Linked DNA regions of Homo sapiens. The protein of the gene in region 3 purifies or fractionates together with the protein of the main gene of each other region. This does not show direct contact. Each region holds a gene or a part of one and is shown on either strand. Other genes may lie near its edges. The genes, in order: PPP4R1, DEPDC1, KDM3B and IDH3A.

Region 1 (7,656 bases), on a different chromosome or scaffold from region 3:
TACAAATTTTAGTTATTGCTTTTTAACCAAAATTCCACGTACTTGGGAACTCAAATCAAAAATTACATAATTAACTGCCCACACGGACAGACACAGTTTTTAAACTGCTCTACGGAGACCTAGAGTGTTCATTCACAGGTGTTTCATTTTCACACCTGCGCTCTGGGTCCCAGACATGAGCACCCTCTAGTGGGAACCGTGGTATGGTATATGTGTGCACAGTATGTGTGTGGTGGGGTACATGTATGTATGCCTGTGTAATATGCAGTGAGGAACAGTGAGGAACATGCATGTATGTGCACTGTGAAATGTACATATACACACGTCTGAATGTGTGCAGAGCAGAACACGCACATACCAGGCATGTGGTGTGGAACAAGCACATACAGCAGGCACGTGGGGTGTGTGTGGTGCATGCCAGTGTAAGGAGGGGCTTGGCTAGCTGGGAGAGAGGGGCCACCAGATGCCCAACAATGGGGGCAGATGATCCTATAAACAGCCAGGCTACTATAAGGTTCTGTTCCTTAAGAGTAAGGAAGAGGGTGAGAGAGAGGTAGGAAGTTAAAGAAGACATTCTTCTAGGAGAAAAACTCACAAACAGGTAAGCCCAGGGCCTCGCTTACCTGGCAGACAAAGACAAAGGCTTGCCGACCAGACCACTTGGGACATCTGCCAAAGTTCTCCACAAGCTCATTGATGAGGTCCACTCCGAACGTTGGTGGTGTTGCCGCGTGCAGCTTCTTCACCATCTCGCTGACCTGGGAGGGTGAGCATGGAGAAATGAGGAACAGCTTCCATTCTAGGATCTTAGAGTTTGCTGATCTAAAATTTTAAAAGTTCAATACATACCAACTTGTAGGAAATCCAACGAACAGAAGAAACTTTGTCTGCACACAGATTCAGAGCAATGGGACGTAAATAGTCATAAACATCTCTGGGACTATATAACTCTAGAAGTAAAATCAGCTGTCTACAAAAAGGAATTACAAAAAGACAATGTTTAAAAATCAGCGAGACAAATGAAAATAGGTTACCCATTTAAATCATCTGTAATACTGGATTACTGAGCACCTGTCTCAAACATACGCAAAGAGGAGTGATTAAGCAGACCTCTCCTGTACAGTTACCTCCAGTCTCTGTGTATCTGGAAATGCACTTACATGCTATTCAAGTTCCTTAGAGTGTAAGGAAAACAAAAGCTGTAGAGTTCTGCATCCATGGGGACTGAGACAGAGCAAAGCACTTCCTAGTATGTTCAACTGGAACATGGCCCACACTGATCCATGGTCACAGTTTGGAATGTGCTGAGAAGCTTCCATCTACAATCAAGTTTCTCAGTAAGAAGTCCCCGCAGAGGGAGGGAGTCCACTGTGTACCTGTCGAGGCTCTGAGGAGCCTTCCTGGAAGGGATTTGCTAGGGATAACAGAGGGAGGGTGTCCTCCAGCAACCTTCCCATCACATCTGAGGGGCCCTGAGACTTTCATGACATCTACCAAGCTAACCTGAAAGCTTCAATGATGGCCTTGAAGAAATACCTTGGATGTGAGACTTTTGCCTTTCAGATTTTATGTTCAAGAGGATTTACATTTCTAATAAGCAGAAAGTCAACTGTAACATGAATATAGATTATGCAGCAATGATAAATGCACCTGTGTATACAAATATGCATCCTCAAAGAGACACACTTATTTTCTGACAAAATTCAAAATAAAAATTCCAAATAGGACCAGTTTCTGCTTAGAATACAGAAAACTGCAAAGAACGTCACTGACCCTACAGTAGAAAAAGCTACATAAACTTCAAGATCTTTTCTTGAGCCCATCAGAGAGCTGGGGTTGCAAAGCACACAAACAACCTAACTTCCCAAGATGGGAAAGAGAACTGCCCCTCAGCAGAGCCCGGATGGACAGGACACCTGCTAGCACCTAACAGGGCAGGGAGAAATCAGCTCGAATTGCAGTCAGCTGCCCAGGGCCAGATGGTGGCTGGCAGGAGCATGGGGTGGCTCAAACAAAGCCAGATGTGCCCGACACAGGGAGCTCACATTCCCAGACAACCTTCTGACTTCCACAGGGTACCTGCCTCCCATGGGTGCTTCAAGAAAGATGGTCAGGAAAAACAGGAGAGATGTCTCATAGCAGGCAGAAGCAACTGACTGACAGCCATGAATCATCAAGCACTCTGCTGGGCCCTTTTCTCGTGCAAAGCAAAAGGCTTAACCTGCTGGTGGAGGGGCCCCAAAGCCTGTCCACCCTGTGGGCCCAGCAAAAATACTGCAACTGTGGGAGAGGAGAACTAATGCTCCTTATTCCAGGAGGAGCTGTAGGAAGTCCTGCCCGAGACCAAGCACAGATAGGAGGTCCCACCCATTACGCAGGGGTGCAGGTACCGCTAAACGCCGGGTGGAATACTCACACTAGAAGACCACTGGTACCCCAGCTGCCACCCTCAGCAAACGACAATGGTAGTGGCAGCCCACAGCGAGAAAAACTGAAGCCCCAAGTACACTGAACGTAACCACAGCAATCACAAAACGCAAACCCAGCTTGACCCTGACTAGATGGACTCACACCCCGGCACTATATGGCAGAAGAGGAGGCGTGTGTTTTGAGTCAGAAGTGGGCAAGCCAGAACTCAATGGAGTGGCATCTTTAATATACTGAAAGACAAACTGTCAGCCCCACATTCCATACTCAGCAAAGACATCATTTGAAAATGCAGGTGAGGTCTATAATCCAGAATATATAAAGAACTCTTACAACTCAACAACACAACTTAAGATAATCCAATTTAAAAATGTGCAACAGACTTGGATAGACATTTCTCCACAAAATATACACAAATGGTTGACAGGCTTATGGAAAAGTGTTCAACATCATTAGTCATTAGGGAAATGCAAATCATACCACAATGAAGTGCTGTTCCAAGCCCATCAGAACAGCTGTAAATGATAAGCGAGTGATGGATATGCTAACTGCCCTTATCTGACCACTATCCGATACGTATTGCAACATCATTACATACCTCACAAATATGCACAATTATTATTTGGCCAATTTAGAAATATTTTTAAAATTTAGTAGAAAAATAGGTGTTAGTGAGGAGACAGAGAAACTGGAACTCCCATACATTGCTGATGGGAATGTAAAATGGTATAGCTGTTGTGGAAAAGTTTTGGCAGTTCCTCAAGAAATTAAACACAGAATTACCATATGGCCTTGCAAATTCACCTCAAAAGAACTGAAAACAGATTTCAAATATTAAATCTTGTACATAAACGTTCCTAGCAGCACTATTCACAAAAGACCACACCCCCAACCCAAATGTTCCTCAACAGATGAATGCCCTAAACGAATGTGGTATATCCATACAATGGAATATTACTCAACCACAAAAAGGAAGGCAGGTTCAGCTAGAGGATACAATATGGAGGACAACTGAAAACATTGTTAAATGAAGAAACCAAGCACAAAAGGCCATGTGTTATATGACTCCACTTGCATGAAATGTCCGCAACAGGCAAATCCATAGATAGTAGATGCTTATTGGGCATGGGTTTTTCTTTTCGGGAGGTTAACATTTCAGAACTAGATAGAGGGAATGGTTCCACAACACTGTGAATGGACTAAATGTCATCAACAGCAAATTTGGCTATGTGTATTTCACCATGATAAAAATAATATAAAGATGAACTAAAGACATTTTCAAGAAAAAATAAAAAAGCTGAGGAAATTCACTGACAGTAAGACACATATTACAGGAAGCGTTAAAGGGCTAGAATACCACATAGAAACTTGGATCTACACAAAGTAATGAAGAAACTGAGAAAATGTAAAAATGAAGTAAATATATACCCCTCCAAAACATAATCTAATAAACTGTTAGAACTTACTCAGCCAGTTCAGCTCGAAACCGCCAATTTCTACTATTATCTGTCACCAAAAACTCCTGAAGTTGATAAAGATATTCTCTTCTTTTGTCAATATGAAGAAGCTAAAGTAACAAAATAAAAATATTTACCAGGACAAGGTACAGACAGTATTTCTTTTACTAGAGTGCTTAAAAACAGACTGTAAGCAATATGGTTAATTCTTCTGAAGAGGAAATGTAGTAGCTGTATTTAAGTGTTTTAAAATTTGGTATTAAGTTTATTTTTCCCTGAATAATTCCATTTGCCTTCAGGAATCACCATCTTGTCTGGAAATCTTTGTTCCTTGTGCCTATCAATGAGCCACGCTAAACCCCACAGTACCCCGGGCACAGCCTGATTACAGGGCTTGCCCCCTTTATTCATATGACATCCTTGTTGCCATGGCCCCGCTTAAGGCAGTAATTATGCTCTTAACCACGTGTGTAAGCCCTGCGTGTGACGCTGTGACAGCACAGAGTAGGCATTCAGTATTTGTTGAGAGAAAAAAAATAAATGTATCCCAATAGCTGCTCTATAAATATTTAAAGGTAAGTTTATAAACGGAAGCAAACCAACCTAACTGTGCATCAGATGGAAAACAATCACACAGGGAAAAAAGCCAAAGTGTGAACTGACTACTTTGACCATACATCTTCAAGGGACGTTCTAAGGACAGAATGTGCTAGGAAGTCCTGAATATTATGTAGTTGATTTGATGTGGGAATTATTATTGGTGGAGTAATTCTGAAACTATTTCATTTATGTTGTGGAACTCAGCAAACAACTAATTTTTTTTTTTTTTTTTTGAGACAGTGTCTCACTCTGTGGTCCAGGCTGGAGTGCAGTGGCGGGATCTCGGCTCACTGCAACCTCCACCTCCCAGGTTCAAGCGATTCTCCTGCCTCAGCCTCCCGAGTAGCTGGGACTACAGGCGCATGCCACCACGCCCGGCTAATTTTTTGTATCTTTAGTAGAGACGGGGATTCACCGTGTTAGCCAGGATGGTCTCGATCTCCTGACCTCAGGTGATCCGCTCGCCTTGGCCTCCCAAAGTGCTGGGATTACAGGTGTGAGCCACTGTGCCCAGCCACAACTAAATATTACACATTAATGTTACTAAGAACAGACTTTTTACCAGGAGTAAAAAGAAAAAAATATATAAAGTGAAGAGAGAAAACGGTATTGAATTGGAAGCAGTTCATAACAATATGAAGTTAGTAATTTAATTAAAAAAAAAAGCATCACACCTCCTAGCTACTATCTACACCTCCTAGCTACTATCTCCTGAAAAGACCTAAAAGAAATGACAGGCCAGGAGCAATGAGCACTTCCAGTGCCTGGATCTCAGTTTCTAAGGACCATTCTCCACTAAAAAGGACCACAGTTCCTTGGAGAAATAGCTGACTCCAGGCTGGGACAGGGAAAGGGAAAGTTGAAACTGAAAGTATTGATGCACTTAAAAATCAAAGGACAAATCAAAGGACACAAGAGGCAGCTTTAAGGGGTCTCCACTAGTCAAATTTGATGCTCAAAACAAATGACAGAAATGGATTCCATTATGTTGAATTTTTAAAATCCTAGAGTCCCCACTAATACTAAAATAACTTTCGAAACCGGGGAAGGAGAGAAGGCACAGGTTATTTTTACATGGGAATGTTACTTAATAAAAACAGAAGGAATGGCCCAGCATAGTGGCTCACATCTGTAATCCCAGAACTTTGGGAGGCTAAGGCGGGGCAGATCACTTGAGCCCAGGAGTTCAAGACCAGTGTGGGCAACATAGTGAAACCCTATCCCTACAAAAAATACAAAACTCAGTTGGGCGTGGTGGTGCGCCTGTGGCCCCAGCTACTCAGGAGGCAGAAGTGGGAGGATCATCTGAGCTGGGAGAGGTGGAGGCTGCAGTGAGCCATGATTGCATCATTACACTCCAGCCTGGGCAACAGAGTGAGACCCTGTCTCAAAATAAGTAAGTTAATTAATTAAAAAAAAACAGAAAGAATTATGAAAATAGAAAATCACTCTTTCACAACCAACACAGTTAACTGATTCAGGTAAGAACCATGTATAGATGCCTGGATATGAGAGCACTGGTGAAGGACTCTAGAGAAAAAGATATTCAGAGTTCTAAAGTATCACCTCACCAATTCTCTATTAACCACAAAAGGTAAAAGGTCATTTTACAATGGAGTTGTCAGCCTTCTCGTCACCAATGATGGGAAGAGCCAACACCACATTAGCCCTGATGTGGCACATTCAGAAAAATACATGACAACCTACACAGGTTAACATGTCTGCAAAAAAACCCCGCTTACTCAGAATCAAATTGTGTAAATTCAAATTGAGGGTAATTCTGTAAAACAACTGGTTTAGACTCCTCAAAAATGCCAGTGACACCTAGATTTAAGAGGACTAAAGAAAGATAACATTTAAATTTAATATGCACTTTAAGGGATTCAAAATTGAGCGGAGAAAAACTATAAAGGACAATACTGGGACAATCAGAAAAATTTTAGGCCAGGCATGGTGGCTCACGCCTGTAATCCCAGCACTTTGGGAGGCCAAGGTGGGCGGATCACAAGATCAGGAGATCAAGACCATCCTGGCCAACACGGTGAAACCCCATCTCTACTAAAACAAACAAACAAACAAACAAACAAAAAAACACAAAATCGGCCGGGCTTAGTGGCACGCACCTGTAGTCCCAGCTACTCAGGAGGCTGAGGCAGGAGAATTGCTTGAACCTGGGAGGCGGAGGTTGCAGTGAGCCAAGATCCTGCCACTGCACTCCAGCCTTGTGACAGAGCGAGACTCCGAATATGATCTACATAAAATATAAAATGGTCTCAATGTTTTTGTTTTTTACTTTTTTGAGATGGAGTCTTGCTCTGTCCCCCAGCTGGAGTGCAGTGGCATGATCTTGGCTCACTGCAACCTCCACCTCCTGGGCTCAAGCGATTCTCCTGCCTCAGTCTCCTGAGTGGCTGAGACTACAGGTGCCTACCACCACGCCCAGCTAATTTTTTGTATTTTAGTAAAGACAAGGTTTCACCATGTTGGCCAGGCTGGTCTCAACCTCCTGACCTCAAGTGATCTGCCCGCCTCAGCCTCCCAAAGTGCTGGGATTACAGGCGTGAGCCACTGTGCCCAGCCTCAGTGTTTTTTAAAAGGGAGGACTACAATTACTTCTATCACTCAAGCCTTAGAATTACCAGAGTCAATTTCAAGGCTAAAGTCTAAAAACAACAACAGTACTCCAGGAGTAAACAATTTGTAAAAAATCAGGGCTATTCACTTTGGAGACCACAGCTCCTCTATCAAAGTAGTGAGGGCTAAACGTAAATTCTCAAGACGCCTGAAATACCACACAAAGCCTCCAAACTTAATACACAGTTGACTTTCAACAACAGGGGTTTGAACTGCATGGGTCCACTTATACTTGAATTGTTTGTCCCAACCAGATTGAAAATACAGTATTCCCGGATGTGAAACTGGAGTACACGGAGGGCAGACTTTTCCTATACGCAGGTTCCACAGGAGTACTCCATGGATTTGGGTGTGCATGGGGGACCTGGAACCAATCCTCCTGCATGTACTGAGGGATGACTGCAGCTAATGATTTTTTTTAACATACATTTCACTCAATAATTTTGAAAAAGAAAAAGATACAAATGTCTGTAAACTATCATCTAATACTGTTTTAAAAGTGAGAGTATAATTATGGGACCATTTCTTTTTTAAGTTG
Region 2 (7,656 bases), on a different chromosome or scaffold from region 3:
ACTGAAATGAAATATTTTTAGTTTTCATGTATTTTTTTTTTTTTTGAGGCCTAGGGACATAGGCAGAGCTTCTAACATCTTCTGATAAGAGAAAGAAATTCTAGGAGATAGTTATAATTATAAGCCAGGGCAATATTAGAATGGTATGTATGGGAAAAACATAAACATGTGTTGGGCAGCCAAAGACAGAATACAGTAGATGTCTGTTATTTTGGCTGCTCAGTATTCCTTCTCTCCTTCTTTTAATAGTTCCTTCCCATTTTACCCCTCTACCTTCACCTTTTGTGAAGAATAAATTCTCCTTTGTGTAGAACCAATCAGAGTAAGGCCCTATCTCCATCCTACTCACTCTTAACAACCTAAACGATGCATATTTAACCTCAACTATGCTAAGAGTCTACATCCAGAGCTTTTAAATTGGAGACGGAGGAATGGCTCTTTTTCCTTTGAATTGCAAATGTAAGGCTCTAACTCATGAACTTCAACTAGCCACATTCCTCATCATGTGAAGGAGCCATTGTCAAACACAGGATCAACACAGAAATAAGAGATGGAGGGATGGAAAGAGTCATATAGCTATTTGAGTCCCAGATTCTGTCTACATTCCTGACTTTTAGAGGTTGTTTATGGGAGCTGATAAAGTCTCCCTTTTTGATTAAGCTATTTTGAGATGAGTTTGCCACTTGCAACTGACTATTGCAGAGAATTTTAAGACTCACAATACTTACATGTCCCTTTTTTAAGTAGTCAAGATGTTTTTCCACTGCAGTCTGTAAGTAAGAGGGTACTTGAAGAATTTCCTGATGATGATCCATTAAGAAAGAAACTAATCTTCCAGCAAGAAGCTCATCAAGATCCACTTCTTCAGCACAGCATAACACACATCGAGAAAAGGTATGTATCATCTAGAAAAATATTAAAAGATGTGAATTTAAAAAGCTAAGGTTGCATACAAACTAGAATATCGGTAATTTCCAGGTAGCATTATGTGAAGTATTGGGAAAAAGTGGTAAGCAGCCCTCAGTTTAAAAATGAGGACAACGATTTATACAGTTAGAAATGTAAGAATTTGATTATACATAAATCCTTTTTAAAGTTTTTCCATGGCTGAGCATGGTGGTTCATGCCTGTAATCTAAGCACTTTGGGAGGCTGAGGTGAGAGGCTCACTTGAGGCAAGGAGTTCGAAGCCAGCCTAGGCAACATAGTGAAACCCTATACCTATGAAGAAATAAAAAACTAGCCAGGCATGATGGTGCATGACTGTGGTTCCAGCTACTTGGGAGAGTGAGGCAGAAGGATTTTTTGAGCCCAGGAATTCCAGGGTGCAGTGAGCTATGATCACACCACTGTACTCTAGCCTGGGAAACAGAGCGTGATCCTGTGTAACCAGAAAAAAAAAAAAAAAGTATATCCTTAATGTAATTCCCAAGAATTATAAAAGGCTTTGGTTTTTCTACAATTTTGTCACAATTTTATCAGTAAACACCATAGGTTCTATTAATACCACATATATATGTTGCTTAAGCTTAAAGATTGTCAGAGAACAATAACTAATTACATTAAATGAATCCCACAGAAAAACACAAACCAGGAGAATGTGTAACATATAGAACACTTCTATTCATAAGTGGTTGCAAAGCTGATGCCATTTAGCTTTTGAAATGCTGGAAAATAGTTTTTAAAAATGTTTATTCTGTCAGTCTTTAGACAGCAATTTAAAACACACATTTTTCAATTCCATCTTATGGGATCTTCAAATCCTGGGATAAAATTGATTACTCTCACTTATTACTCTCGTTACTTTCACTTATATCTATGCAACCCTCTAACTGTACCACACACACACACACACACACACACACACACCCCTCATTCTAAAATACTTAGAAATCAGAATTGTTTTAAATATTTCACACATAGTAGATGATCAGAATATTTATAGAATTGATACATTTTTAGTTTTATTCCTACACATCACTCGGGGTTTCCTGTCTCCTTCCATGGCTCAGACCTCAGCCTTTTGCTCTTTCTTCACACTCTTAGCCTTGTAGAGCTCATCTACTCTCATAGCTTCAAGTACTATCCCTATGTAAATGACCAAATCAATTTGCATTCTCCCCTGATCTTTCTTCACCTGGCTCATATTTCCAACATTCTGTTGGACAAATTTCAATTTCTCTTGGAGGTCCTATGACTTCAAATCTTAAAAGTGCAAAACCAAAATTATCACCTTCCCAGTCATGTCTCTGAAAACATCTTCCTCTATAAACTTCCTAGCTTTTTAATAGTGCTATAATTACTCAAGAATAATTCTTCTTCTTTATATTAGGTCTGTCATTGTTAAAGAACTATCTTTAATAACGCGTGGAAGAAAGCATAACTCCGGATTCCTTGCTATAAGAACCTCTTGTAAATTGAAGTTGCATTTTGAGGAAGTGGTGACTTAAAAAAAAAGAAAGAGATTAAAGATACTATTTCAAGAGTTCATTTCCAATCAATTGTCTGCATATAAATGCCCTTATCCTCATTTTCACAAGGAGCCTAAGGCTGTTTGGCAATAGTGCTTCCCAACTTCTTGTCCACGATGACCTACTTTTCCATTACTATATTCTCTGAAACACTGACTTACTGTATTAAGTTCCATTAGTTCTCTGCGTCCACAGTTATAGTCTCCTTAGGCTTTCAACAGTACCTACATTTCTTCTTCCTTATCCACCAAACAGAATTGGCACAAGGCAACATAACGTGGTCTGACTGGTCAATCACTATGAAGTGATTCAGGATGAATGAGCAGGCAAAGTCCTTAGCCAGGATTAACATCAGCATGTGAAAGTATAACAGAGTGTGCACAAAAGATTAATACACCAAAATTCTGCTGCTAGGAAAGGTTAAAGAGCCTTTCCAACCTAAGAATCTAGCACTTTAAGACTAAGACATCACTTGAGTAGTACTTTTACGTAGTTTGGTTTTGTTATTTTGGTTTATGAATCAGACTTATTCTTTCTATAAGAAATCAACTTACCAGTGACCTCGTACCCATTGCATCATGAAGTTTGGGCATATCAACATTTTGACTCATTCGGGAAATCATACGCATTAAAAGTTGAAGCTTTCTACGATTTGGTGGGGGAAGTAACAAACAACATAACTGTAGAGCATCGATGGCAACCCTCTCTAAATGAGGTTGCAGCAAGCCTAGAATACAAAAATACCCCCCCAAAAATCATCAATGACACTAGTTGCTTTCATACTACCAGTATATACAGCTATATAAAGAAGGTAAAATAATATCTTAGTATTTCATCTTTTAACTATTTCTAGAAATTACGTTCCTCTAAAGCATGGTAAGATTCTCATTATTTTCTTTACAACTTATTTCTAAGTATTAAAATTCTTCACTTATTACAAATAAAGTGACTCAGAATAAATGAAATTGCAAAAAAGAAAATAAGTTCCTTAGGTAAACAGAATAAATCTTGGTTATGTCACAGACAAAAGTCTTTTTAAATAATTCCTCTTGGAGGAAAAAAAATTAAGCAACTTCAAGGAAGAAAAGCCAGGTAAGCAAAACACAGAGTTAGTAAACACTCAAAGTTAATATTGCATGCATTGAAAGCAACAGCCTTACTTTGTGTGCCAGTCAACATAGAAGAAGCTGGAAGTAAAGAATTTTCTGAAAGTTCTATTGTACTTTTGCAGAGTCTTTTATTGATTGTGGCACTAGACTCTCCGAGTTCACTTTCCATAGCTGTTTGCACACTTGTGCTGCCTTGTCCAACATTTGGTTTCATGATAATTTCAGCCACTGGTGTATTGATATAACTATTCCTTCTTGTACTACTTCTTAAAAGCAAACTCTGAGACCTACAAAGCTGTTTTGACTTGCATTTCCCATTACACAACTCCTCTTGGTCTTGAACAGTCAAAGTAGAGGTTCTCTTAAAACCAGCACTGAATGGCTTTTGAATATTTTCCTCTGAATGAAGATTCAACAGGAATTCCTGTTTGGGCTTAGACTCTAAAAACAGTTTATTATTTTGTCCTTCTATGTTCGGAAAAGATTGATGAAAGACACTGGATGCCTCTTTACTTGAATTCCCTGGCACATCTACAATTCCTTCCAAAGAACAGCACCTTGGTTTGCTGTTAGAGGATAGATCATGCATATTACTTAACCCTATTAAATTATGACAACTTCCTCCCATTATGTCATTAGCACTCACTCTTCTGTTTCTTAAATTAACTAGCTGCATTTTCTTAGCACATCTTTCTTGAAATCCTGGATTGCTTATCTGTAGTCTCTCAGTAGAATCTGATTCTTCTTTGTTTTTTTCTCTATGAAGCAGACTGAGAAGAAGGCACTCAGTTGATTTGAAGGAATTCAAATTGTTTAAGTGAAGGAATTTTGAAGACTGTGGATCATCTTGAATTTTATGTATCCCACTGGATCTATCTGAAACTGTGATGTAGCCACAAACAACTACCAGGAAATGAAACAAAAATTAAGATGCAACTGTATGACAGTGGACAAAAATAAAACAAAAACAATAGTAAAGTTAAAAAATAAAGCATTACTATAGTATATATTGTTAGTATAGTATACACAGTAGTTGCTTAATTCAGAAGCCACTTAAATAGGACACATGCAACATTCGGTTACAAACGTGCAAGACAGATGAGTGGTTTTCCCATTTGTAATATAACTTTAAAAAATTATTTCAACAGCCTAATTAAATGGATTGAGCCAGAATACATTTAAAAAATCTGTTCTCAGTCTGCAAGTACTAGAAACCTCATAAATATAAGATAATTGTGGTATAATAAAATACATATATTTGATCTTTGTCCTTGGTACCTGGTATGGAGCTCCTAAAATCCTTGAAATTTCCTGAATGATAGAAGTCTTTAGTTACTCATAACAAGCCTATTTCAGCGTATCTGAGTTCATGCTAAGGTAACTGAGGGCCGGCCATGGTTTGAATTTTCATCACCAACTACAACCTTGTGGGAGGAGAAAGGGGCTAGAGATTGAGTTCAATTGACAACAGTGACCAATGATTTGGTCAGTCATGCCTTGGTAATTAAACTTCAATTAAAACTCTAAAACATGCAGGCTGAGGGAGTTTTCTAGGTTAGTGAACACATGGATGTGCTGGGATCACGGCATGACCAGAAAGGGTAGAGAAACTCTGTGCCACCCCCACCCTCATACCGTGCTCTGTGTAACTCTTCCATTTGGCTATTCTTGAGGTCTAGCTTTTATAATAAACTAATAGTCATAGTTAAAGTGCTTTTCTGAGTTCTGTGAATCATTGTAGTGAATTATTGAGTCTGGTAGGGGGTTGAGGGAAGTCCCGAATTGGTAGTTGGCTGGGCGGAAGTATGAGTAACCTCGGAACCTTATTTCACTGAATTTTAAAATAATTTGTAGGCTGCCACCTTTATATTTACCTATGGTTTTAGATCTTCTAAATTATAAGAAAGTTGAAAACTTTAACAAAATGAACTAAAATCAGTAAAATCTATACATACCCAAAATGTTTACAAATAATTCGTAATATTCAAAAGTAAGTAGAGGTTCAGGGAGATCTAGAAAATAATCTGCGATTGTTCTGAATACATCTCGTTCAAATCCAACATAAGTTGGATTATTCATATCATTGCTTCTTGGCCCTAAGAAGTAGAAGGCAAGAGAAAAAGGTAAAGTATATTTTAATTTAAATACAATTTTTAAACATAAAAAGTATAAAATCTGTATTTCATGAAGGAGCTAGGTTTAACAACAAATTCTGCCACAGTTCAAAAATTTAAAGGGTGTATTTCATTCTTCCTCATTATCTTTCCACTGGAAGCAGTCAATTGCTAGTATTTTGTTTAACATTTGTATACCTGAAAAATCATACATAAAGCAAAATTTTAATATCATTTTAAAAGCATTAGGGAAGCTTAGTTTAATAAGATTTTATTGTAATTCATTTTGTAAAGGAAAGAATATTTGGACAACACAAATAATTCCTTCAAATTGTCTTTTTGTAAATTTACATGTTCATGAATATATTTTGTCTGACATGAAGCATAGCCTTAATGAATTTAAATAATATCTTTACATTGTTGTTTCTTAAGCTTGACACAACTATTGAAATAATCATACCTACTCATTTGTGTTTTCCTCAAAAATAAGATCTGATCTCATTTTATAGATAAGAAAACTGAGGCTGAGAGTACCTTGCCCAAGATGAAAAAGACTCTGGTAGCAAAGTTTGAATTAGAAGTTAGAGCAGTGTAAAATAAGCACAAGGCCCAGGACTTTTAAAGCTACAACAACATTTAAAGTGTGGTTCATAGATTATATCACAGAATCATCCAATGTGCCTATTAAAAATACAAAGTCCTCTATGGAGACCATAATCCATGAAGGCGGGGCCAGAAATTTACTGACCTAGAAATGTTTGCTTCTGGTTCACTGAGTGTTTTCCAAACACTAACCTGAGAATCTTCACTATAGTAATCTTCTGGAGGCATATATATATATATATATTTTTTAAAGATTCCTGACCTACAGAATCTCTGGAGAGTCTCTTTAGTGACTGTGGTATGCATCTAGGTTTTAGAGCCATTATACTATCTTTCAAGTTAAAATGTTTCTCTTCCCAAGTCCAAATAATATTTCTTACTTCTCTGTTTCCAAACTTTTGTATGGACACACAAATGTGAGCACACACTGAAAAAGAATTAAAGAAAACAATTCACACACACACACACACACACACACACTCTTAACAACAGAGCAAAATAGATATTTTTCTAAGGACATAAGAAATAGTATGTGGAATAAAAGATTTGATAATCATTAGAAAGTTCTCTAAGACAGAAAATACATGTTTACAGGAATTAAAAATATTAAAAATATAGAATTTATAGAGAATCTAGGTTTGAGCTCTAGCTCATTTGCACTAAAAGAAGATACTCTAAGCTTTGGCTTTCTCTGTTGGAAAAATTGGGATGGTATACTGATTACTAATTCCTACATCTCACAGAATTACTCTGGGGGATCGAATAACAAGTAAAGTAAGTCTTAACACTGCCTCTGGCTAAATACATTGTTGCTAATTTGGAATCCAGTAAGTTATATAATTGGTATCGTTTAGGTATTACATAGACTGAAACGAGAAGGAAGACAGAATCCCTGAAGACCAGATGTCAGAGAAATCCCTGTCAGTATGCCTATCTGAATTCCTAACCATGAGCAAAGGAATGAAAGAGAGGAATAGCTAACTATACCTGGAAAGTAGAAAGACAAATTCAAGTCTTAAGTTCATAATAAAGATTTTAATCTTAATTTGATAAAATGTTTCTGTAAATATATTTAATTTATTGCTATTTATTCAATGTCATTTTATCATATTGACACCCAGTGGACAACAAAGGAATATAAAGTTACCCTGAACATTAATAAAACCCTATTAGCATTTAGAAAATGCTAATTTTGTATGAACTAGAAAATTATACTTGTAACTATTAAAACATAATTTAGCTTTTGATGATTTAGCTTATATCTTTGTACATTTAAAAAATTAACTTTGAAAGCAATTAGGATTTTGTACTCATACTAGGGTTTTATGTTACAAAAATCAATTATCACTGATCACTACGA
Region 3 (7,656 bases):
GGGTGACAGAGCGAGACTCCGTCTCAAAAAATAAATAAATAAATGTGTAGAAATGAATGTTTTCATTACAATGGCTGATCTAAAATAAAGACAGAGCCAACAGGAAACTTCTTGCCCTAAAAACTGGCTTGACATGAGTTTCTCATCACCTTTTTATAAGAAAAGGATTTGGAATTTAATCATTTGAAGGAAAATGAAAGACTATCCAAATTATTTTTCATTCATGTGTGTATTTATTTTTAAAGGGTAACTTTAGGAGTGAAACATGAGCTACCCATGCTAGTTCCTTGCAGTCATGCAGGTATCAAGGCTCCTGGCCAAATCCTGCCTGTGAAGCAACAGCAGCACCTCAGGGCTGTGTCTGTTCTTTTTCTCTATTGTAGGGAGTAAGTTGAAGTCAATACTTACTGGTTAGTAGGAAGATAAAAGAAAAAAGAAAAGGAGTTTTATTTTTTAACTCTAAAATACCCTGAAGTAGTCTCTGTAGCAGAGACAGAGGCAAGCCTAGGTGGCCTGCTTGATTCGTACGTCTCTATGCTACTCCTCAAGGAAATCCTGAATGTTAACTCCTCTTGTGTATTTAAAGAATAGTTTAATTAAAACTCTCTCCCCTCTTTATAAGAGAATAGCCCTTTTGTTTATCGGGAATCACTTTTTTTTTAATTGTAGTAAAATACACATAATGTAAAACTTACGACTTTAAAATGTACAATTCTGTGGCATTTAGTACATTTACAGTGTTGCGAAACTATGAAGACTATCTAGATCCAGAAATTTCATCACCCCAAAAGGAAAACTCCATATCCATTAAGTGGTGATGGAATAATTTTTATTTCCAGTGTTTTAGAGTGAATATTAAGGTATATCATCCTCTACTACTTGAAAGTAATCTATGGTTAGCAAGTCAAGTACTAGGATCTGGGTTTTATTAAATTAATAAATATAAGTTTGGGCTCATACCTACCTATGGGTCTCTTCTCTCTCTCTCTCTCTCTCTGTGTGTGTGTGTGTGTGTGTGTGTGTGTGTCCCTTTCTCTTGTCTGTATCTGGGTACATTAATATATAGGAAAGTCCTTCCTTTTTTTTGTTTTTGTGAGGGAATCTTGCTCTGTTGCCAGGCTGGAGTGCAGTGGCACGATCTGGGCTCACTGCAACCTCCGCCTCCTGGGTTCAAGCAATTCTCCTGCCTCAGCCTTCCGAGTAGCTGGGACTACAGGCACGTGCCACCATGCCCGGCTCATTTTTTGTATTTTTAGTAGAGACAGGGTTTCACCGTGTTGGCCAGGATGGTCTTGACCTCCAGACCTCGTGATCCGCCCATGTCAGCCTCCCAAAGTACTGGGATTACAGGCATGAGCCACCGCGCCAGGCCCCATTCTTCTTTATACAGTCATTCACAAGCAGAAGTTAACATTTTGAAGGTAAAAGAAGGAAAGGGGAGTGTTCTGTTATTTCATTCTTCAGTTATGCTGAAGGCTTTTTTTGGGATATTGTCAGTATATACATTTATCCTCTTTGGATTCTTATTAGATTCTAATTATAACAAAGGTCTTGGTAAATAGCTTGCTTTCTTTAATTTAGCATCTTTACGTCTAACGTTAATTGAAGTAGATATTCAACTTGTAGGTTGACTTGAACCCATAAATAGATGCCGAAATCCAAAAGGGTCCATGTTGTGGACTTTCAGATTAATAAGGAAAACACTTTTCTTTAACGTGCAGTAGGCTTGTCCTAGGATTAAAGCCACTTTTTGTAAAATGGGCAATTTTACAGTAGCCTAAATAAATCAAAACTTTAACAATAGCTCCCAAGGTCATTGAGATATATTAATATTACAGGGGTCACTGTAAAAGCTGATGTCTATTCAGGAACCCTTTTCTCCAGTTCCTTAGAGGAGCTCTTCACTTCCAAATAGATACCAAAAAGCCTACAAGGCCTTCTAGCACTGTGACGACCAATTGGATAACAACCAAGGGAATTGCAGGATGAATGACATCCTGCTATCTCTGGTTCACCTTGCTAAAGATGCCCTCAGTGTAGTCTGTGGCAGATTTCTTCCCCACTGCTGGTGAACTCCAGTTACAAGAGCAGATCCATGGAATTGTAAAAGAGAAAAGTTGATGGACCCCCAAGAAATGTTGATCTGGTGATAGTGAGGTCCAAGAAAGAGATCATTAGATTGTCATGAGAAGCCAGCATCACTAATTCAGGCTATCTTCCTTTCAGAATTCAAGAAATTCTATTCTGGCCTCTTCTGGATTTGGAGCACCTCTCCCTAGTTCATCGCAACCTTTGACTTTTGGAAGTGGAAGGAGCCAGTCCAATGGTGTTCTAGCCACAGAGAACAAACCTTTGGGCTTCTCTTTTGGCTGTAGCTCTGCACAAGAGGCACAGAAAGACACTGATCTCTCCAAAAACTTGTTTTTTCAATGCATGTCCCAAACTTTACCTACCAGTAACTACTTCACTACTGTTTCAGAGAGTTTGGCTGATGATTCTTCTAGTCGGGACTCATTCAAACAAAGCCTTGAGAGCCTGAGCTCAGGCCTGTGTAAAGGCAGATCCGTTCTTGGAACAGACACTAAGCCAGGCTCTAAGGCTGGCAGCTCTGTGGACCGGAAAGTGCCTGCAGAGTCCATGCCCACCCTCACTCCAGCCTTCCCACGGAGCCTCCTAAATGCCCGTACCCCAGAGAATCATGAAAATCTATTTTTACAGCCCCCCAAATTGTCCCGAGAAGAGCCTTCTAATCCTTTCCTGGCATTTGTGGAGAAAGTTGAACACAGCCCTTTCAGTAGTTTTGCATCTCAGGCATCAGGTAGCTCCTCTTCTGCTACCACTGTCACCTCCAAGGTGGCACCCAGCTGGCCCGAGTCTCACTCCTCTGCAGATTCGGCATCTTTAGCAAAGAAGAAACCCCTCTTCATTACAACTGACTCCTCCAAGCTAGTATCTGGTGTTCTGGGCTCAGCTCTTACCAGTGGGGGCCCAAGCCTCTCTGCCATGGGGAATGGCCGCTCCAGCTCGCCCACCAGCAGCCTCACTCAGCCCATTGAGATGCCAACTCTCTCCTCTAGCCCCACAGAGGAGAGGCCAACTGTGGGGCCTGGGCAGCAGGACAATCCCCTCCTCAAAACCTTTAGTAACGTCTTTGGCAGGCACTCAGGCGGCTTTCTGTCCTCCCCGGCAGATTTTTCACAGGAGAACAAAGCTCCTTTTGAAGCTGTGAAAAGGTTCTCACTGGATGAACGAAGCTTGGCTTGCAGACAAGACTCGGACTCCAGCACCAACAGTGACCTGTCAGATTTGAGTGACTCTGAGGAGCAGCTGCAGGCTAAGACAGGCCTGAAGGGAATTCCAGAGCACCTGATGGGGAAGCTGGGCCCCAATGGGGAGCGCAGTGCTGAGCTGTTGCTGGGCAAAAGCAAAGGGAAGCAGGCCCCCAAGGGCCGGCCTCGGACTGCCCCCCTGAAAGGTGATCCTGCTGGGGCTATATTTGGGCTTTGCTCTGGCACTGGGCTCAAATGCCTGTCGTGTTCTTGTGCAGCAGAGGCACTCACTTTGATGGAGAGTTCTGTAATCTCATAGAATTACAGAGCCAAGAGGACCTGGCAGAGGCCCCTCGTCAGGCCTGGTTCAGGGCAGGATTGCATCTAAACCGGCACTGTAGGAGGAGTATCTGTCCCAAATAATGATAATCCCCCAAAGGAGGACTCTTGATCTTCCTTGGCGGTCAGTTATTTTTGGTCAGGAACTATTTCTTTGCATTTGTCTCATCCCTTTTTACTTCACTTTGGCCCATCCTCTTTACTTCAGAGGGGTTACTGGGAACTGGTATCCATTCCCACATAGCAGACATTTGTAGACTTGATGAAGCAGAGAGAATCACCCCTCAGTTTGCTCCTCTCTGAAACCTACATAAGGATTTTAACAGCTCTATCAAAATCCATTAACTTGTGTGGTGTGAGGTTATGGTCCAGAAGCGGGTAAAACAAAGTCTCATGGTAAAAGCAGCTGTTCTCAATAGGAATTGCTATGTTGTGGGAGCTCAAGAGGTCCTGATGAACAGAATAGCCATATCGTGAGAGACTAGAGGCAGGTGATGGCTACATTCTGGCTTCTTATGTTTTTCACATCCATATTCAAAGTTGTTTTGCCATAGTGGGGCACTTCCCACAAGTTCTGCATGGTTCTTAGCTCCCAATGGAAGCTTCTTTGCTCCTTGCTTTCCCTTCCTGTCAAGGATGGACATAATGGGTACATGCCCAAGCAGGGAAAGGAGTAGCAACCCAGGTCAGAACAAATGTCTGTCCCCAAAAGAATCATGCTATTGGTTCCTGTTTACACCTCATGACAAACTTTTCTTCTCTCCCCCTTGCCACAGTTGGCCAGTCAGTGCTGAAAGATGTAAGCAAAGTGAAGAAGCTGAAGCAATCTGGAGAGCCCTTCCTGCAGGATGGGTCATGCATCAATGTGGCACCTCATCTGCACAAGTGTCGTGAATGCCGCCTGGAGCGGTACCGGAAGTTTAAGGAACAGGAGCAAGATGATTCTACTGTAGCCTGCCGTTTCTTTCACTTCCGGAGGTACCCAAACTCCTGTTTTCCTCCTTTGCTAGTTTTCATTAGTGACACATAACTTCCACTCTTTCTCTGAGTCTATAAACATGTTTCATCATCTTGGTCTTTGCTTTCCTCAACTCCTTTGCTCTCAGCGTCTGTGAAGAGGCTCTGGCATAGTAGTCACTTAGTTGTTTGGATTGTAAAATGACATGTGATTTTGTCCTTGGAGAATTAAAATTGAGCAGTGTTAGCTGCAGCTCTGTGCTATTCCCTGAGTAATTCCTAACTTGGGTTGGTTCTATTTGAAACCACTATTATAAGCAGAAGGACTGCATTTCATATTATGGATCTACCTGACTGCTTATTCCTCCTCAGTGCTAGAGTAACTTGAGTCATGTTAAAAAGACGGGGAGGTAAGATTTGGAGATAATGTGAAGCATCTTTGAAATAGATATAACTGATGGAAATGTGGGAATATCGTCTGCTTTTACCAAACAATATCTCTTTAGTTACTTTTCTTCTGCTTGATAAACTTAGAAGGGGAGTTTCTTCTGAGTGACCTTTCAAGAATCTTTAATTTTTAAAGTAAATCCAAATGGTTTACCAATATGGTGTGGATTCACTTAGCAAATGTTTATTGAGCATTTAATGTGTGCCAACCCTTGTTCTGGCCATTGAATATTCAGCAGTGAACAACAAAAAAATCAAATTTCAGCCCTCAGAAGGTTTGGGGAGGCAGACAGTAAATAAGGAAAAAAGGCCAAGCATGATTACATGCCTTTAACTCCAGCACTTTGGGAGGCCGAAGCAGAAGGATCACTTGAGACCAGCATGGGCAACATAGTGAGACCTAGTCTCTACAGAAAATTTTAAAAATTAGCCGAGTGTGGTGGCACACACCTGTAATTCCAGCTACTCAGGAGGCTGAGGTGGGAGGATCACTTGAGCCCAGGAGGTCAAAGCTGCATTGAGCCTTGATCGTACCACTGCACTCCAGCCTTAGAAGCAAAGCGAGGCTCTCTCTAAAAGAAAAAGAAAAAATAATAAGTGATATGTCAGCTGATAATAACTATGAGAAAAATAAGGAAAGAGGATTGAAGTGTGAGGATGCTAGAGAGGCTACAGTTTTAAACAGGATGATCTGAGAAAGTGAGAGTTGAGGAACAGCCTGCAGGAGGTGAAAGAATACACCACACTGTGACAGGTATTCCAGACAGGTGCAAGCATCCCAAAGCTGGAGTATTTCTGGTGTGTCCATAAAGTTAGGTTGCTAAAATAGAATAAACAAAGAAGGAAAAGGAGTTGAGGTGAATGAGTTAATGATGGGTCCACATTTTAAAGGGCTATTCCAAAGGCCTTGGTTTTTACTCTGATGAGAAGTCATTGGAGGCCTTGAGCTGATGCGTGACACTGATTAATGTTTTAAAAGGCCACTTTGGCCACCTTTTTGAGAATAAGCTATGTAGAGGCAAGGGCAGAAGCAGAGAAGTTAGGAGGCTGTTGGAATTATCCAAGTGAGAAATGATGGGGCTTGGACCACGGAGATAGTGATGGACATGATGAGAAGTAGTTGAAGATAGAGTAGACATAATTTTCTGATGAATTAGATGTGAAGTATGAAAGAAAGGACTTAAGGATGATTCTATGTCTGGTTCTAGATATGTCTTTTGGCCTAAAAACAGGAAGAATGAGATTGCCATTTACTGATAAAGAGATTCTTTAGGGAAAAGCAGGTTTGGGGAGGAAAAGGGGGAGTTTTAACTTGGCCGTGTTAAATTTGAGATGCTTGTTAGATTTTCAAAGGAAAATACTGAGAAGGCAGCTGGGGATACAGCTCTAGAGTTAAGGGAAGGGGTCCTACCTGGAGATATAAATTTGGATATCACCAGGTATTTAAAGCTGTCAGTCTAAGTGAGATCAGAGCATAGATAAAGAAGAATAGCAGTCCAGGGACCAAACTCTGGTACTCTCCAATGTTTAGAGGTGAGAAAGATGGAAGCAACTAGTAAAGGAGACTGAGAAAGAACAGCTAGTGAAGTAGCAGGAAAACTAGGCAGTGAGGTATCCCAGAAGACAACTAAAGAAAGTATTTCCAGGAAGGAATAATGAACTGTGTCAAATGTTGCTGACTTGAATGGGGGCGGTAGCTCACGCTTGTAATCCCAGGATCTTGGGAGGCTAAGGTTGAAGGATCACTTGAGGCCAGCAGTTTGAGACCACCCTGAACGATGTAGTGAGACCCTGTCTCTACAAAAAATAATAGTAATAATAATAATTTTTTTTTTTGAGACGGAGTCTTGCCCTGTTGCCCAGGCTGGAGTGCAATGGCGTGGTCTTGGCTCACTGCAACCTCCATCTCCTGGGTTCAAGCGATTCTCCTGCCTCAGTCTCCTGAGTAGCTGGGATTATAGGTGCGCGCCACCATGCTCGGCTAATTTTTTGTATTTTTGGTAGAGACAGGGTTTCACCACATTGGCCAGGCTGGTCTTGAACTCCTAACCTGAGGTGATCCGCTTGCCTCAGCCTCCCAAAGTGCAGGGCTTATGGGTGTGAGCCACTGCACCCTGCACAAATCAATTTTTAATAAAAAAGTAAAAATGTTGCTGACAGGTCATGTTACATATGGACTAGAAGTGACTGATTTAGCAAGGTAGAATTACCTTATCAAAATAGTTTTGCTAGATTGGTAGGGGAATTGCCTGATTGTAGGGAAGAAAATAAAAGGGAAAGGAACCTATGGCAATGAGTATAGACAACTCTTCTTTTTTTTTAGATGGAGTCTTGCTGCCCAGGCTGGAGTGCAGTGGCGCAATCTTGGCTCACTGCAATCTCCGCCTCCCGGGTTCACGCCATTCTCCTGCCTCAGCCTCCCGAGTAGCTGGGACTACAGGTGCCCGCCACCACACCCAGCTAATTTTTTATATTTTTAGTAGAGACAGGGTTTCACCGTGTTAGCCAGGATGGTCTTGATCTCCTGACCTCGTGATCCGCCCGCCTCAGCCTCCCAAAGTGCTGGGATTACAGGCGTGAGCCACTGCGCCCGGCCAAGTATAGACAACTCTTTAGAGGAACTTTGCTCAAGCAGATAAATGGA
Region 4 (7,656 bases), on a different chromosome or scaffold from region 3:
AGGTTCCTGGCATGCAAGAAGAGATGTCATTCTCTAGCAGGCCCAGAGGGATTCTCTACATTATCTGTGCCCAGTCATCACTCCCAGCTACCACCTGCCCACTTATTTCTTTTCACAAGGGCTCTTAACAGTGGCTATAGTTAGAATATCATAAGTAGCAGAGGAATATGGTTCACAGAAACATCATATAGTACTGATACATGGATGAAACTTAAAAACATCATGCTAAGTGAAAGAAGCCAATCATAAAAGACCATATATTATAAGATTCTATTTATATGAAATGTCCCAAATAGGCAAATCTACAGATACAGAAAGTAGATGAGTGGTTGGCTGCCTAGGGTGGGGGAAGAAAAAGGAGGAGGGGGTAGGGAGGGAGAGAGACGAAATGGGGAGCGACTGCATAGGGTATGGGGTTTCTTTTTCGGTGAGGAAAATGGTCCAAAATTAGATTGTGGTGATGGTTGCATAACTCTGTGAATGTACTAAAAACCACTGGATTGAAAGGTACATTTTAAAAGGATGAATTAGGCCCAGTGTGGTGGCTCACGCCTGTAATCCCTGCACTTTGGGAAGCCAAGGTGGGTGGATCACCTGAGGTCAGGAGTTCCAGCCCAGCCTAGCCAACATGGTGAAACCCCGCCTCTACTAAAAATACAAAAATCAGCTGGGCGTGGTGGCAGGCACCTGTAATCCCAGCTGCTCGGGAAGCTGAGGCAGAAGAATAGCTTGAACCTGGGAGACGGAGGTTGCAGTGAGCCAAGATCATGCCATTGCACTCCAGCCTGTGCAACAAGAGCGAAACAATGTCTCAAAACAAATGAAACATAAAAATAAAAAATAAAGGATGAATGATATCTCCATAAAGCTGTTTTTAAAAAACAATATTACATTGTTTAAAATATATATATAGGCCAGGCCCGGTGCAGAGGCCAAGGTGGGCAGATCACCTGAGGTCAGGAGTTCGAGACCAGCCTGACCAATATGATGAAACCCTGTCTCTACTAAAAATAAAAAAATTAGCCAGGCGTGGTGGCATGTGCCTGTAATCCCAGCTACTTGGGAGGCTGAGACAGGAGAATCGCTTGAACCCGGGAGGCAGAGGTTGCAGTGAGCCGAGATTGCTCCATCGCACTTCAGCCTGGGCAACAAGAGCAAAACTCTGTCTCAAAAAAAAAAAAAAAAAAAAAAAAAAAAAATATATATATATATATGTATGTATGTATTGCATAACCTATGAATGTACCAGTTGGAGGTATAAACAAGCATCCCTTTCTCTCTACCTACATCCTTCATGTGTATACAGCTAGCACACTGAACATGTCCTAGGACACGAGCTCAGACAGACACGGTGCTGTTCACAAGCAGCTTACAGCTGAATCCACTTACAGAATTTTTAAATTATCTACCTGTATCAAAGGCTCAGCTGTTAGAAGTAATAACATTCCATTCTTGATAACACATCAGAAATTTTATTTTAAAGAGATTATTTCAAAAGCGCCTGTATAGATTTTGGAAACAGCAATTCTAGTCTTATTTTATTTTATTTTTTGCAAAAAGGTGGGTGATTTGGCAGGGCTTAAAAGATCTTAAACCCAAGCAGGACTTAAAGATCCACAAATACTGCAGTACTACTTTGATTACTTTACATATAACTGATGCCAATGCAGGAGTTTAAACTATCAACAACAGGAGCAGCCAGCCAGGTGCGGTGGCTCACGCCTATAATCCAAGCACTTTGGGAGGTGAAGGTGGGAGGATCGCTTGAGCCCCAGAGTTCAAGACCAGCCTGGGAATAGAGCGAGACCTCATCTCTAAATTTAAAAAAAAAAAAAAAAGAAAGAAAGAAATAATGGCAGTAGCAAACACTGAGACACACACTGTTAAAGTGACAATCGGTGGAGATTAACAACAGACCTGACTAAATTTCATAGAAATGGGTACAATGCATCCTAAAAGTTCACAGAATCCAACTGGCTAAGAAAACTTTTCAGTGAGTCATCATTAAATGTATTTTTTAAGCCCACTTACTTTGGCAGCATCAAAAATCTTCATAACTGCAGCTGAAATTTCTGGGCCAATACCATCTCCTGGAATTAAAGTTACTGTCTGAACCTGAACATAAGAAATCATCAAAGAAGACAGTAAGAATTTTTGTTTTTGAAGGCTTAAAAAAGAATATTTTGACAGAGAAATCCACTTTATGAGATGTCTCAGGAAGATTCAAATGCTGTTAAGAAAACAAACATACCTCCCCGGGGGTCATCAAAGGGGAGGCAGGAATCAACAGAGGAGAGACTCTGCAATCCTACTCTTTACCTGAGTTCAGAGGTTTTAAAAAGAACCAAATGATACTCTTTACATAAAACGAAAATAAATTAAACTACCAAGTAGATTTCCTAATTGATATTTCTTTTCAGACAAGCTGCAAAGAGACCAATTAATTCAAATCTTTTAAACCAAAGACAACAACAACAAAAAATTAACAATGTTCTCTCACTAAAATTTAGACGGTTTCTCATGAAGGCAAGTGTTTTCCTTTCCTTTCCATTGTGATCCTGGAAAGCTTCTCATGCAACTTCTTCAGTCTTGCAAAACATTTTCAGACACATTTCCAAAATATTACTGAGGTCTGTTTTGGTACTCAGGGAAAATCAGACTTTTTATCAAGAGAGCTTCCATTTTTTTCTTAGTTCCTCTATAAAACTGTCTGCTTAAATCTAAGAGTAATCTACATAAGCTTGGCAAAGTTGATCTGCAACCAAAAAGAATAGTATATGTCATCATACCTGCAAAGCCTGAGTCACACTTAGAATGACAATTATTGTTTTTATAATGTAACAGCAATGATTTATTCTAAGGCTTCAGGCAAAACGAAGCCAGCATTTCAAATGCAGAAATAAAAATATGTAAGGGAGAAGATCAGCACCTCTTTTTCCATTTGGGAACCACATATTTTATTATCTTGGGACTTTACCCCACCTAGGGGCTTGGCTTTTTTTCAGTTCTAGTTGCTTGAACTGCATTTTTAAAAAGTCACTAATTCAAGTTTCCTTGGTCCTTTGCCTTCCAATGATGTCTGCCCAGATACGTGGACTAATTATTTCTGATTAGTTTCTGTACAACTGAAGAAACATTTTTATTTTTTTCATTTTTCTAATTTTCAATTTTTATTTTTTAGAGATGAGGACTCACTACATTGCCAGGCAGGAGCACAGTGGCTACTCACAGGTGTGATCACAGCTCACTGCAGCCTCGAACTCCTGGCCTTAAGCAAATCTCCCACCTCAGTCTTAGCCAGGGCTAAGGCTCATACCAGTTTTCTCGGGTTGAAGAAGTCTTTAAAAAAATTAATACATCCTCTTATTTCTTCAAAAATAACCTCCTCCATCAAGCTAATTTTTTTTTCAAATAAATAGCCTGAAAATTAAATAATAGCAGAGAGCAATGATCATCTTATTAGCTTTCAGAATGCGTTTGAAATGCTAGCATGGCTATCCTTGAGCTTGAAGTGCAAGCCCCATCCTGCATTTTTGGCATAAGCAGAGCCAAAAGAACGCTTTGGCTACTTCTTCCTGTTCTCCCAACATGTAATAATAAATGTCATCCAGTCACCAGAAAATCTGCTTTTCTTCCACAATACAGAAAGTAAATGGAGGAAAAAATGTACTATGGTCTTATAAATCTTTCACGGCATAGATGTTATATGGGAGTATAGGAATTATGAAATCCAAATCAGATTCCATAAAAGGCGGGGCGGGGATCAAAACAAATAGGAAGTCACTGACCCACAGTCTTAGAATGTTCCAAAAATGTGGTATCAGCTTTTAAAGCACAGAATTCTGATGCTGGGAATTCTAAAAGCAGCAGATTTAATGAACAATAGATGATCTACTACTGTGATAGTCTACAAAGCCTATATAAGGCAAGTATAAGCCTACAAGGCTTATAGATGTTCGAGGCATTCCTAATTGGCACTCAATCTACTGGGTTTAGGGAAGCCCATAAAATAAAAATGCAAAGCAGGTTTTGAAGCTTCTCAACAATTTTCTCTCAACTTGTACTAGTTTTGAAAAAAGCTGTCTCACCAAAATGAGATTGTGAAATAAAATAACAGGCTCAAGGGTACTTTCTATTTTTAACAAGGCTCCCTCAAGATATTAATGTGACAAACTTACATAGCCAGCTGTAAGATAATTCTTTCAAATGCGCAAGTAACCTAACAGATTTGTGCATGTCAGCCAGTAATTTCAACATACATTATAAATATGGCCAATTTTCCCAAATTCTAAATGAATGGAGATAAAATGCTATATAATAAATATGTTAGAGCATCTTTCTTGAGAAACTTCTAAAAGGAAAAAATAAAAGACATAATTATACTCACACCACCAGTAAAACCTCTGGTCACCTGTTTTGGGTTGTGGAATGCCCCCAGCAGCCGAGAGACCTATATTAATATCAACAGAGAAATATCACACACAGAATTAAACCACATACAGTAAACAAGAGCGAGGAAGTCCTGATGGATGGTAATGCTGCAACTTGGCACAGATATATTCAGTAGCTTCCCAGGAATACAAATCTCATGTATTAGCTCAATGTGGCAAGCTATCTCAGATTTGAAAGCCTAAATACTCAGATTTTTACTTTAGATTGAGTACTGTATATTTTCAAAGTCAATTTAACGAATATAAGTTGTCAAATAAAAGATGTTGAAGGTAGAATAAAACTACTTTTTCAGCTCAACATACAGATTCTTCTCAGATGAGTGGATCATTTTGTGCCAACATTCTTGACCATTCGGTCAATTTAGGGGTAACATATATTCTAAGAAAATTACCATTAATTTTAGAGCCAGGATGTTCCTCATGAAATCCAGAGCACAACTCACTTATTTCTTGTTGTTGTTTTAGGCTTTTTGAGATGGGGTCTCCCTAGGTTGCCCAGGATGGAGTGCAGTGACTATTCAAAGGCACAATCATAACTCACTGCAGTCTCCAACTCCTGGGCTCAAGTGACCCTCTTGCCTCAGCCTCCTGAGTAGGTGGGATTACAGGTGTGCACCACGACACCTGGCAACTTGCTTATTTCATAAGCGGAGATGCTGGTCCCAAAGAAAAGCATTTGCCTAAGGTCACACAGCGAATAATTGGCAAAATGGAAACCCACATACAGGTCTTCTGACTCCTGGTCCAGTGCTCCTTCAATTATACATTATATCTATTCTGTGAATATTAAGAAATTACACTTTATAGTAAAATCTAAGAAAGTTTATTTAATACCATCTGATGCCCATGCCATACAGAATAAAGATTTTAAATAAATTACTGCTTCTTCTGATAATATAGGTAATGTGGTCATTACTGTCAGTTTGCTGGGACTAGGAAAAGATACAAAATATAAAATAAAAGTTACCCAGTAATCCCACCACACCAAGATATTACCACTGGTACGTGTTTTTTTTTTTTTTTCTCTCTCCAATTAACATCATATGCCAGAAATATAAATTTTAAAGGTTTATTATAAACTTTAATAACTTAGTCCTTGAGAACTGGTACAAAGTCATACTACATTATTATAAACAATATAAAAAAAGAAACTGGGTACATAGACCAAAGGTATTAAAATGCATTAAATTTTTTTTTTTTTGAGACAGAGTTTCACTCTTGTTGCCCAGGCTGGAGTGCAATGGTGCAATCTCGGCTCACTGCAACCACCACCTCCTGGGTTTGCCTCAGCCTCCTGAAAGTAGCTGGGATTACAGGGATGCACCACCATGCCCGGCTAATCTTGTTGTATTTTTAGTAGAGACAGGGTTTCTCCATGTTGGCCCGGCTGGTCTCAAACTCCTGACCTCAGGTGATCCACCTGCCTTGGACACCCAAAGTGCTGGGATTACAGGCATGAGCCACCACACCCGGCTGCATTAAATTTTTTAAAAAGTAACTTTTTCTCCTGCTAGATACATGAGCAAAGACACATTTGTTATATCCTATCTTGATGTTTTTTTCTGGGGTCTGAACCTTTGCTGAAATATTTATTGGTAACAACCAACAGCCAAGAAAGGTATGAATGAATTTTATTCTCTAATCTTCTGGTATCTATAGTCATGACTCTGCATTGAAAATAAGACTGGGCCAAATCCAAAAGAATGCCAAAACCATTGGCCAAAATGTTAATCCTAGGGCATGATTCATCCACCAGCGAGTGGGCTATTGGAAGGGAGGCCATTTAAAGGCTACTTTGTGACAAGAAAATTGACATGTGTCCTTTCTCCTCTCCCTGAACAAAAAAGAAGGAAAAGACATTCACACAAAACTCATGTCCTTGTGACAGAAGACCCAACCAACCAGGCTGTGCAACAAAGTGAGACCCTGTCTCTACAAAATTAGCCAGGTATGGTGGTGCACACCAATGGTCTCAGCTACATGGGAGGCTAAGTCGGCTTGAGCTCAGGACTGCTTGAGCCCAGGAGCTTGAGGCTTCTGTGAGCTATGATTATGCCACTGCACTCCAGCCTAGGTAATGGACAAAAAAAAGAAAAAAAGAAAGAAAGAATGAAAAAGACCCGACTCAAACAACTGATTTTAAAATGTAAACCCATCCTACCTGCATATGCTGGGGGCAGCAATGTAAACCCAGGAGTGTAAGGATTTGTGTTTTGTTCACTGTTGTATCTAGTGTCTAGAACAGTCCCTGGCTCATAGAAGGTATTCAATAATTTAAAAAAAAACAAAACAACAATCAAACAAAACTGAGTCCAGCCTCAGTCACATCTCTATCTGAAGAGTTTCCAAGCCAACAAGTAGCCTTAATACTTGCAATGATCTTCTTTAAGGACCAGTCTTTTCCATGTTTGTCATCTCTCTTGCATGATCTTAGAATAAAGCAGTACTGCACCTAAGTCATCACAATGACCCAGAACTTTAAGTAAAATAAAATTTTCCAAAGCACCATTTAAAGGTTACTTCGTGACAAGCAGAGCATAAAAGTGACATGAGGCCGGATGCGGTGGCTCACGCCTGTAATCCCAGCACTTTGGGAGGCTGAGGCAGGCAAATCACCTGAGGTCAGGAGTTCAAGACCAGCCTGACTAACATGGAGAAACCCTGTCTCTACTAAAAATACAAAATTAGCCAGGCGTGGTGGCACATGCCTGTAATCCCAGCTATTCAGGAGGCTGAGGGAGGAGAATCACTTGAACCCAGGAGGCAGAGGTTGCGGTGAGCCAAGATCGCGCCATTGCACTCTAGCCTGGGTGACAAGAGCAAAACTCCATCTCAAAAAAAAAAAAAAAAAAAAGGCCGGGCGCAGTGCCTCACGCTTGTAATCCCAGCACTTTGGGAGGCTGAGGCCGGTGGATCACCTGAGGTCAGGGTTCAAGACCAGCCTGGCCAACATGGTGAAACCCTGTCTCTAATAAAAATACAAAAATCAGCTGGGTGTGATGGTGGGTGCCTGTAATCCCAGCTACTTGGGAGGCTCAGGCAGGAGAATCGCTTGAACCCAGGAGGTGGAGGTTGCAGTGAGCCAAGATCTCACCATTCCACTCCAGCCTGGGCAACAGGAGCAAAACTCTGTCTCAAAAAAAAAAAAAAAAAAAAAAAAAATTGACATGAGTCCTTTCTCCTCTCCCAGCCCAAAAAAGAGGGA

The links.
Region 1: the proteins of KDM3B (region 3) and PPP4R1 fractionate together in Homo sapiens (co-fractionation; one large-scale study listed by BioGRID). This does not show direct contact.
Region 2: the proteins of KDM3B (region 3) and DEPDC1 purify together in Homo sapiens (affinity purification with mass spectrometry; one large-scale study listed by BioGRID and IntAct). This does not show direct contact.
Region 4: the proteins of KDM3B (region 3) and IDH3A purify together in Homo sapiens (affinity purification with mass spectrometry; one large-scale study listed by BioGRID and IntAct). This does not show direct contact.

What each region holds. Positions count from the first base shown.
Region 1 is NC_000018.10:9,549,429-9,557,084, forward strand, and holds part of PPP4R1 (serine/threonine-protein phosphatase 4 regulatory subunit 1), read right to left. Parts: intron 3,995-7,656; coding exon 3,894-3,994; intron 971-3,893; coding exon 850-970; intron 759-849; coding exon 624-758; intron 1-623. UniProt on the Homo sapiens protein: Regulatory subunit of serine/threonine-protein phosphatase 4. May play a role in regulation of cell division in renal glomeruli. The PPP4C-PPP4R1 PP4 complex may play a role in dephosphorylation and regulation of HDAC3.
Region 2 is NC_000001.11:68,478,416-68,486,071, forward strand, and holds part of DEPDC1 (DEP domain-containing protein 1A), read right to left. Parts: intron 5,676-7,656; coding exon 5,535-5,675; intron 5,290-5,534; exon of another isoform or gene 4,483-5,289; coding exon 3,631-4,482; intron 3,198-3,630; coding exon 3,025-3,197; intron 906-3,024; coding exon 729-905; exon of another isoform or gene 714-728; intron 1-713. UniProt on the Homo sapiens protein: May be involved in transcriptional regulation as a transcriptional corepressor.
Region 3 is NC_000005.10:138,388,787-138,396,442, forward strand, and holds part of KDM3B (lysine-specific demethylase 3B), read left to right. Parts: intron 1-2,226; coding exon 2,227-3,475; intron 3,476-4,384; coding exon 4,385-4,586; intron 4,587-7,656. UniProt on the Homo sapiens protein: Histone demethylase that specifically demethylates 'Lys-9' of histone H3, thereby playing a central role in histone code. Demethylation of Lys residue generates formaldehyde and succinate. May have tumor suppressor activity.
Region 4 is NC_000015.10:78,152,007-78,159,662, reverse strand, and holds part of IDH3A (isocitrate dehydrogenase [NAD] subunit alpha, mitochondrial precursor), read right to left. Parts: intron 4,451-7,656; coding exon 4,388-4,450; intron 2,756-4,387; exon of another isoform or gene 2,501-2,755; intron 2,116-2,500; coding exon 2,032-2,115; intron 1-2,031. UniProt on the Homo sapiens protein: Catalytic subunit of the enzyme which catalyzes the decarboxylation of isocitrate (ICT) into alpha-ketoglutarate.